Homo sapiens: one gene and its partner. The protein of the gene in region 1 interacts with the protein of each later gene in a biochemical or structural test. Each region holds a gene or a part of one and is shown in the gene's direction. Other genes may lie near its edges.

Region 1 (7,941 bases):
TCTGGACCTCAGAGCAGAAGGACCCTCGTCTCTCCTCTGGGGAGTCCTGGTGCCAACTCAGTGCAGGCTGCTAAGTTATCCGGGTCTGACTGTCTTCTTCTCTGCTAAAATTTGTCTTAAGCATGTAACACAGCCATGCTTATTAATGATGAGGAGACAGCCAATGAAAATTAATTTTTTCAAAGATGAATAGATATCTAGATTTTTTCAAGCACAACTCATTTAAGAAAATATCACCTCACTGAGCCCCAAATGAGTTAGGTCTCACTTAGAAAGTGTCCCCTAGTGCCAGGTAAAGTGCCTCATATTTGCAATCCCAGCACTTCTGGAGACGGAGATAGGAGGATCTCATGAGCCCAGGAGTTCAAGACCAGCCTGGGTAACATGGCAAAACCCTGTCTCTACAGAAAATACAAAAAAAAAAAAAATAGCTGGGCGTGGTGGCGTGCACCTGTGGTCCCAGCTACTCTGGAGTCTGAGGTGGGAGAATCGCTTGAATCCAGGAGGTTAAGGCTACAGTGAGCTGTGTTTGCACCACCGCACTCCAGCCTGGGTGACAGAGCCAGCCTCTGTTTCCAAAAAAAAAAAAGAAAGAAAGGAAAAGAAAATGCCCCCGAGTTGATTACATTTTAACCACTGTGCTAACTTGAGAGATAGTCTGCTATCTCTTTACAGGACATGAGGGCTGATAATCACCTCATTGCATGGTCCTGGGGACTGATGAACAAAGGCTAACATGTGGAAAAGGGCAACTAAAGAAAGAAGAGCCACCTCCAGGTTAATTAGTACAAGTCTCCTCGCTGGTATGCCCTAATACACTAAAACAGCAGTAAAAACAATCTGCACATTGGCATCGAAGGCACAGATAAACTTGCCGAGGACCCTTACCACGGCAGAGGGATGCTTTATATGAGTCCTTAGTAGATTAATTAAGTTCTTGCTAGTTCCATTTGGAAATGATGCTGTCCTCTTGGGGCTATGCAGAGAAGTTCATGTTGATGAAATGAGCTGTCCTAGAATGGCAGTTCCCGGGCAGCAGAGCCTGGGCTCAAGGAAGGTTGAAAGAAGGGGTGGCGTGGAGCTGCCAGGTGCAAATGTCAGGCCAGCAATGCAGTCCAGCTTGCATGGACGTGCTTCGCCTAGGAAGTTGTGACTTGGCTGCATTTTCCACTTCAGGTGAGATGGAAGGTTGAACTCTACCTCACCTCCTGGTGAGGTTGATGTTTCCTGGTGTTTATAACTTTCTTTGTAAATACTTGAAAGGAATTTACCATTTTAATGCTGGAAGAGACGTCTATTCCTTCTTAAGAGGACCTGAGTGGATCTTGATTGCAGGCCTTATGCTGGGCAGAGCTAAGGAGAATTCAATTTGTCTCCAATCTTATTTGAATGTTCTTTTTTTTTTTTTTTTTTTTTTTTTTTTTGAGACAGAGTCTTGCTCTCTCACCCAGGCTGGAGTGCAATGGCACGATCTCGGCTCACTGCAACCTCTGCCTGCTGGGTTCAAGCAATTCTCCCACCTCAGCCTCCCCAGTATCTGGGACGACAGGAGCATGCCACCATGCCCTGCTAATTTTTGGTATTTTTAGTAGAGATGGGGTTTCACCATGCTGGCCAGGCTGGTCTCAAACTCCTGACCTCGTGATCCACCTGCCTTGGCCTCCCAAAGTACTGGGATTACAGGCATGAGCCACCGCGCCCAGCCTATTTGAACGTTCCTATGCCTGCTACAAGTGCAGCAGCAGAATCTCCACACATCTTGCGTGCGAAAGTTTCCTGTAGTTCCTTTAGCATAGAGAGGCTGGGGAAGGTTAGAGACTGACTTGTACTCTTTAGACATATAGTTGATCATTGAACAACACACGTCTGAACTGTTACACACAGATTTTTTTCAATAAATGTGTTAGAAAATGTTTTGGAGTTTTGCAACAATTTGAAAAAACTCAAAGACAAACCATCCAGCTAGAAATATCAACAAAAATAGAAAAAGTTAAGTATGTCATGAATGCATAAAATATATGTAGATACCTAGTCTATTTTATTCTTTACTACCATAAAATATAACAAAACTATTGCAAAAGTTAAAATTTAGTAAAAATTGTGTACACACTCACAGATCGTATATGGTGCTATTCTCAGTTGAGAGAAGTGTATACAAACATCAAGATGCAGTATTAAATTGTAACTGCATAAATTTAACCGTAGTGCATACCACACTATGGTAATAATTTCATATCCTCCTCCTGTTGCTGTTGCAATGAGCAAAGGTGTTGCGAGTATCCACTTAAAACGTTCTGTGATACTCAACATTCCATCATGAGCAGTTCATCCCCAGTGAATTGCGCATCACAGTAAAAAGTGCTCTCTCCCTGTTCGCATGTATTTTTCGTCCTGTTTCGTGCTGTACTGTAAACCTTGAATAACACCATGGGATCCAATATGAAGTGGCACTAGTGATGCTGGAAGTGCTCCCAAGAAGCAGAGAAAAGTCATGACATTTGACATTACAAGAAAAACTGGATTTGCTTGATATGTAACAGAGACTGAGGTCTGTAGCTGGGGTTGCTTCCATTTCAGACAGATGATTCATCTTGTAAACAGGTGGTGTAAACTTACTGTATGGAAAAATACATAACAGTACCACAGATGTATTTTCTCCTTACGAACATTTCCTTTTCTCTAGCTTACTTTATTGTAAGAATACAGTATATCATACATATAACATACAAAATACATGTTATTAACTGTTGCTGGTCAACAGCAGGCTGTTAGTAGTTAAGTTTTTGAGAGTCAGAGTTATACCTGGATTTTCTACTGTGTATGGTCAGTGTGCCAACCCCTGAAATTGATCAAGGGTCAACTGTAATCCTAAAAGAATCTAATACAATATTGTAAACAGTAAGTGGTCAATAAATAAGGAATTGAACTAATAAGAATACATAAATCCCAGAATATGTGCAACCTGATCATAGTACACAGAGATCTCTCTATATATCTCTTTTCTTAGTTCATGCTGTTCTTTCAGGTAGAAAGCGCCTTATTTTGAATTAGTTGTCTTTAGAGCAAAAATCCCTCCAAGAGTGCTGTGTGGTTTCCTATGCACAACCTGGAATAGTCCATTGCTTCATGCCTACCCTGGACATGAAGGGCCATGCCGCAGCGGAAGTCTCTATGCACCCACCCCCGTCTATACCTGAGCAACACATTCCTCTTTGCTGCTCTCTTACAGGCTACAGAGTGCGGTGGCGCCAGCACAGAGCTCTGCTCAACGTCCCTCTGTGCTTTCACGATGCTGATGGATTATGAAGGTAGGGAAGAATGTACAGCCAGGAGGCCATTAGGAGGGCAACTAATTTATAAAATCACATTTGTAGAATTTAATGCATCCAACAACTACCAGGGGAAAGGTGGGCAAAAGCTATACCAACACCACCCAAGTCAAAACCAAAACAACAGGAAAAGAAAATTATGTGGATGTAGAATTTCTGATAACATCATTCCCAAGGTGCCTTATCCAAGAGGAACTGCTACAATAATATTTTAAGTGGAAATAAATACATGCTGGAAGCATTATATATTAGTAGAGTATTTTTTTTTCCCAGAGTACTTTCTCAAGCACATCAACATGAGCCCCCTAAGAGACATTTCACATTAAAAATAAAATGTCTGCCCACTGCTGGTTTCTCAATCTGCCTCCACCTTCTGTCCCCTTTAATGAACTGGGCCATGAGGTGAGTCAGAGAGGATAAAGGGAGTGGTAAGAATTTGAGGAGAGAAGAGAGTGAGGCTAAAATAGGAAATCAGGAAAAGCGATTCGGTCCCCCTGTCCCTCACATGGGGCCACCCTCTTGTTGCCCAGTGTGGCTTCTTCTTGAGGGTTCTGCATGGTTCCTCAATCCCAGGGAATTCCGCAGGACATTCCACCCAAGACCATTGGGCTCCCACCTCTACTCTTTTGCCAGTTAATGAATAGGCAGGAATTTCACTGCCTGGAAAGAGGAACAATGCTTTCTGGTCCTTATTTCACATCTAAAATAGAGAGGTCAATTGATTTATTCCTAAATATCTTTGAACACTAAAATAGAAGTTTTACAGCATATATACTACCTGGTTGCTCTAGACTTAAGCCAGGGAAAAGTACAGATTCAACATTTAAAATTGAGATAGACGCTTTCCACTTAATGCTACCAGTCTTGCTTTATTTCATGAGAATGAGAATATAATAATATGGCATACGTTCATTTGGGGGAAAGATTGATGTCTTATAACATAATTTATAATTACAGAAAACATGTGAGTTCACTGGGAATAAATAAATTTTGAAGATAATAAGATACTTTCACTTATGTCGTAATTTCTATGTCATTTGGTGTAGGATGTAGAGATATTAACGTTTACACCTAACTTAAGTTTGTCATCTAAGACCTGAAGGGGTTTTGTCTATCAGCTGCACCCCTGGGTAGAGACACAACCTTGGGGAAGGCCTCAGCCCCATCCCTCGTACAGCAGGAATGAGAACAGCCCTGCCTGTTGGGAAGCTTGAGGGAGGCTATGGACGTGCAGCGCTTGGCAGAGGGTCTCGTCATGGAAGGTTCCAGCAAATGTGAGATACTTTTATGATTTCATTTTCTCCAAAAGAAAGGGAATAAGAGAAGAGGGGAGGAAATAAGACTAATTGCGAGAGATAAAGTACAAGGGTGAGGGAAGGAATAAGGAGACATGACGGCAGCGTGGAGCAGCCGAGGGGGGAGATTGCTTTCACCACTTCCCAGCATCTATTGCAGATTCCACCCTCAAACATGTTGTAAGGACTCTTTATTCAAGGTAATGTTTGAACCCTGCTGAGCCAGTGGCATGGGTCTCTGAGAGAATCATTAACTTAATTTGACTATCTGGTTTGTGGATGCGTTTACTCTCATGTAAGTCAACAACATCCTGGGATTGGGACCCACTTTCTGGGCACTGCTGGCCAGTCCCAAAATGGAACATAAGGAAGTGGTTCTTCTACTTCTTTTATTTCTGAAATCAGGTAAGACATAGTTTTTTTAAATTATAAGAATTATTTTTTCTCCCACAATGTAGTAAAAATACATATGCCATGGCTTTATGTGCAATTCATTTAATTTTTGATTCATGAAACTTCCAGTTGAAAATCTTGTATAAGATTGAGGAATTCTTCAAGAAATAAGTTTAAGTTTCCTGTGAAGATTGTCAGGGTGCTGGAATGAATGGGCAGAGAAAATAATGGGTGATTTTTCAAATCTAAATGAGTGCACCCACATAATGGCCAGTCTAATTGAAAAAGAGCCAATGTAGCTAATTATGCAAAGGACGGCTAAGCTCTTTGCCTGGTTCTCAGTTTGACTAATTTATATCATCTCTGTTACGGTGTCATGCTCCCCTCACTTGCAAGTTAAAACAGTGAAATATCTCTTTGAATATATTCCGTTCTCTCACCAGTTCATGGTGGCGGCAGGGTCGGGGACTCAGCATTTCTCCCTTTGTTATGGCCTGAGGAAGGCTTTCCATCAGTATACGTTTGCCTCTTATCCCCGGAAAAATCACACGCATCCATTTGCCAGATGCTGTGTGCAGATAGTGATCAACAAATACTCAGTTGCTTGGGTTAGGTCCCTACATTTTTACACATACATACATACCTGTGTGTGAATGTGAGTGTGAGTGTGTATCCTTTACAAATACTAGCTTATTTAGCTCGTGGTATAGGTAGGGTAGCATATTCATCCTCATTTTATAAACAAAGAAATCAGACTTAGGAATATCATGTTATTTGCTCAGTGACCAAATTCTCAGATCTGGGAAATAAAGAAAACTGGATTTAAGCCAGGTTTCCCAGAAGGAATCTAGGGCTCTTCTCACTTTTCAGCTTTGTTTAAGCCTTTGAAAGAATATTCTAAACATGTCCTAGTACTTCTTTTTCTTTAAAAAAAAAAAAGCTTTATTGAGATATAATTAACATATAGAATTCACCCATTTAGGCATACAATCCAATGGATTTCAAGATATTGAGAGTTGTGCAGCCACCATCAGAATAAATTTTAAAACTATTCATACCCCCAAAAACGCACTCCACTCTCCTTAGCTGTTACCCCCAATCTGCAGCTTCTGGCAACCACTAATCTACTTTCTGTATTTATATCTTTGCCATTTTGAACATTTCATACAAACGGAATCATACGATTTGCTAGTAGTTCTTCATGTAAATAATGTACGCTTGAAATTCAATCTATAAATTACCAGATAAAATTTTACAAGTTGCACTTTAGAGTCAAATACATTTGAATTTAGTGGAAGCCATTCAAGGAGCTATCAAAGAAAATACAGAGCAGGAGAAAATTAAAGAAATTTTTGTAAGAAATTGGTGTATGTTGGGGGGTATGAATATTATATTTCAATGCATGGAAACTAGGACATAGATCACTATGAACTTATTCAGTGGGCTACACCCAAAGGCTAGATCAAACTTCTCTGCCACAGGATTAACATATGTTTTAACCCACCTGGTGGGCACATTCTCTCATAAGCTCTTTTGGAAAGCCAGGTTTTCTGTGGATGTATCATCTTTCCAGTGTGCTGCAATGCCCGGGGAGAGGGAAAAGTTTCTTTTACAGCCATGCTTAGTGGGAAGTGGAGAAACATCTTCCATTTCACAAATTAAGTCTTTTACACATGCAAATATGCATACACATTCACACACCACAGTGAGGAAGAAATTCTCACACCATTAATAAAATACATTTGCATCAGTAGCAATATACATCTGCATTTTGCCTATAATATAAATGTATTTTTCCACTAAAAGATTTGTTTGATGTTTCCTTGCCAGCAAATAAGCCCTATCAAATCCTATTGCCATATGAGTCCTAGAGGTGAATAAGAGAAGAAAAAATGGGGGAAAATTATTTCAAACTGAAAAGAGAAAAGTTTGATTCTGTTTTGGGATATTTCCTAGGGACATGAGCTGGGGAGGGGATCTCAGCAGCGATGCGCTATGAAGCATAGTAACATAACACAGAGAACTTAATTGAAGGGGGAAATAAATGGAAGTTTTCTTTTTTTGAATATCAGTTGTAGCCTGCTCTGCTATACTTCAAAAAAACTCTTCAGAAAGTTTAACTGAACTCACTGTAGGACACACTTTGTGGATTTATTGTGTGTTTTGAAGTCACACTGTGAGCTATATAGAATTAACCAAAACACAACTCTTCTTGAAAATGAGAGTTCAAGTTGGCAGAAAGTGCGGGGTAAAGACATGGATATGGGCCTAAAGCATCTATTTCTTTGTGATCTTTTGATATATCTCTCAAGTGCTTTTTAGTGGATTAGCTTTAGAATGCATCAGCCAACTCCTGCTCAATAATCCATTTTTCCAGCCCGGAATGTCTTAAATTGAGGAAGGACAAAGTCCCAGAGGTGGGGAGCAGGGGGACTTTGGCCGAGGACTTTGCATGAATCGATGAGCATGCATCCACCTCCCTGTCCTGCCCCTTGTGCTCTGTGTACCCTCAGGAGGTCAGGACAGGCCTTTCTGAGAATGAAAATCTGTTCATTTGCTTTCCTACTGGATACTTGTCATCAGCATACAAACCAATGCGCTCTGCAGTGTGTCATCTTTCAGAACCTCCCCTGACCGCATGTTCCCTGGAGGGCTCGCTGTCTTCAGAGCCAGGCTTGTCTCCTGCTGCAGCCTCCACTGCTCTCCTAGTCACTCTGTAACCCACCCCCTCTGCCTGCGGCCCCCACCACGCCCCTCAAAGTGGTCAAGGTTGTCCTGTTGTCTAATTCCATGGAGCTTGCCTGTCTTCATTTTATTAGCCTCTTTTGGCCTCTCACCCTTGTGCAAATCACTAGCATTCTGTGCCAAGGACGGAGCTGGCATCTCCAGGCTTGGAATAGAGCTACCAAAGCTCAGCCAGATGT
Region 2 (2,636 bases), on another chromosome or scaffold:
GGGTCTGACCGTGTCCCCTCCTGGCCCCCAGGCAGCCCAGGCACAGCCTCCTCCCAGGCTCAGGCCCTGCCTCTGGCCCATGAGGGTAACGGGGCAGGGCAGGGGCAGGGCCAAGGGATCTCTTGCCTGTGGGGAGTGGGTGGGAGCCACACCGGATGTGAGCTGGAAGACCTGGGCTCTGCCTCCTCTTGGCTGCGTGGACTTGGGAGGGTCACTCCCCTCCCCGAGCCTCATCAGTTCCATTTATGAAGTAGGGGTAAGGAGTCTCCTCTGCCCACGTCATTACCATGATTGGAACACACAAAGGCTTTGAAAACCAGGGCCCCTGGGGAAGACAAATGGGGCGTGGGGACACAGCCCACAGGAGCAGGGGGGAGTTGGGGTCCCTGGCAGCTAGGCGGCTGGGATACCTGGTTCAAGCCTAGTGTCCAGGTAGGAACCCAGGCTCTGTGGGAAGGCTGACACCTGTCCGCAGCCCTGACCCCAAGGCTCTTCTCTGCCCACCTAGAAGAGGGTGTGGCCCCTTCACTGGGCCCCCGACCCCCTCTCTGGGCCTGGCAGTCTGAGAGGAAGAAGGCTCCATGTTGGCAGCTGTAGCGGGAGAGGGCATCTGCCCACGTGCCTGGGAGCCCAGGGCGAGGGGCTGAGGACAAAGCTGGAGAGAATGGGGGCCCAGAGGTGCCACCAGCTTCCTTTCTCCACAAGCAGAGGGAGCTCTGGACCGCAGGGCAGAGAAACTGGACCCCTGAGGCATATGGAGAGGATGGGGTGGGGGCCTCCTCAACACAGCCCAAGGGTCTTCTTAGAAACCCGAGCCTCGCAGAGCACCTGCCCCAGGGCCTCCTCCAAGACTAAGGGGCTGTAGAGTCTATTTCCACGGCCTGCAATGTCGGGGTCCCTGGGCCAGGATGCCCTCGGCAGCCTCAAATCTGGCAGTGACCCCGGGAAAATGACCCCTCCCAGGTCAAAGGAGGCAGCCTTCCCTGCGCTCCTGCTCTAAGTCTTGAGGTTGTGCTCTTGTGGGTGTCCAAGTTCTGAGGCCTGAAAGCTTCTGCAGACGGGCATAGAACAGGGCTCAGAGGAGGGGTCCCTGCTTCCCTAAACTTGGGTAGCCAGAGTTCGGGATCCTCTCACAATCAGGACCAGGGATCAAAGCCCAGCCCTAGGCAGGCTGATGTGGGGCAGCTCCCCCAGCATGTAGCCCTGTCTCAGGCCCCACATTCCCCTCAGGTGGGAAGGCTGCAGAAGACAGACCCGGAAGTCCCAGGCTGGCCTCACCCTGGGTCCTGGCAACCATGGGCTAGGCCGAGGGAAGGGGGCTCTTCAGGGCACTGTAAGCTTTGTTTTCCATGTGCCCTAAAAGAACAGACTCCCACCTGTGCGGAACCATTTGAGAGGAAGTGGGGCCTGGATAAGAGGCCACCAAGAGCAGTGTGGGGACAGGGCCCCCGGCATCAGCCACCTTCTTGTGCATAATGATCCCGAGAGCAGTACAGTAAGCTCATTATCACTGTCTCCATGATGGATGAGGGTACAGAGAGACAAAGCCACCTGTCCGAGGCCACACAGCTAACCCAGCGCCTTTCTGGCTTACTGTGCCTTCCATGCCACTGGCCAGGCTGGCCCGAGTGAACCCCAATGTCTCTCCTAGGACCAGGAGCTGGAGAGCCTGTCGGCCATTGAAGCAGAGCTGGAGAAAGTGGCCCACCAGCTGCAGGCACTACGGCGGGGCTGAGACACCGGCTGGCAGGGCTGGCCCCAGGGCACCCTGTGGCCCTGGCTCTGCTGTCCCCTTGGCAGGTCCTGGCCAGATGGCCCGGATGCTGCTTCCGGTAGGGAGGCAGCCTCCAGCCTGCCCAAGCCCAGGCCACCCTATCGCCCCCTACGCGCCTTGTCTCCTACTCCTGACTCCTACCTGCCCTGGAACATCCTTTGCAGGGCAGCCCCACAACTTTAAACATTGACGATTCCTTCTCTGAACACAGGCAGCTTTCTAGAAGTTTCCCTTCCTCCATCCTATCCACTGGGCACAACTGCAATAACTTCTGACCTTTTGGTGAAAGCTGAGAACTCCTGACTGTAACATATTCTGTATGAACTTTATCTAAAGAAAAATAAATCTGTTCTGGGCTCTTTCCTCTGAATTTTTTCGCCTCTCAACTTAAGAGTGGAGTGAGATGCACTGGATTTGGGCGAAGGGACAAAGGGAGGTTCAGTCCTCCTGGGGACCTCCTTTCTGGGCCACTTCCTGGCTGTGGGATCTTGAGCAAGTGACTTTGTTAGCTCTGAGCCTCAGTTTCCTCATCTGTAAAACGGGAATGCTGACCTGCCTCAAAGAGTGTGTGCAGGGATTAAAGCACACTTGCTGAGGGCCTCCAGGTTCCTTCCTCTCCCCGTCCCCAGCCACACCTGAGCTGGGCCATGCAGAGGCAGCGCCAGGTGGGGACACGGGCTCTGTTTCCTGAGATCAGGTCGCCCCTCCCTGATGGTCCCCGCCATCCAGTCACCTGTGGTGCCGGGTGGAGGCCCTGACAGCCCCAGTCTAGTGCCTGTCGCAGGACACAGGCATCAGACTTGAGCCTCTGAGCTGCAGGGACCCCTTGGCATAACCACTTATTAGGCCCTGCTATGACTTC

What was found.
Region 2: of the proteins of PLG (region 1) and CHGA, one has a biochemical effect on the other in vitro, tested with the Homo sapiens proteins (one study listed by BioGRID).

Annotation. Positions count from the first base shown.
Region 1 is NC_000006.12:160,697,325-160,705,265, forward strand, and holds the start of PLG (plasminogen isoform 1 precursor), read left to right. Parts: upstream 1-4,919; 5' UTR 4,920-4,980; coding exon 4,981-5,029; intron 5,030-7,941. UniProt on the Homo sapiens protein: Plasmin dissolves the fibrin of blood clots and acts as a proteolytic factor in a variety of other processes including embryonic development, tissue remodeling, tumor invasion, and inflammation. In ovulation, weakens the walls of the Graafian follicle.
Region 2 is NC_000014.9:92,933,150-92,935,785, forward strand, and holds the end of CHGA (chromogranin-A isoform 1 preproprotein), read left to right. Parts: intron 1-1,651; coding exon 1,652-1,735; 3' UTR 1,736-2,136; downstream 2,137-2,636.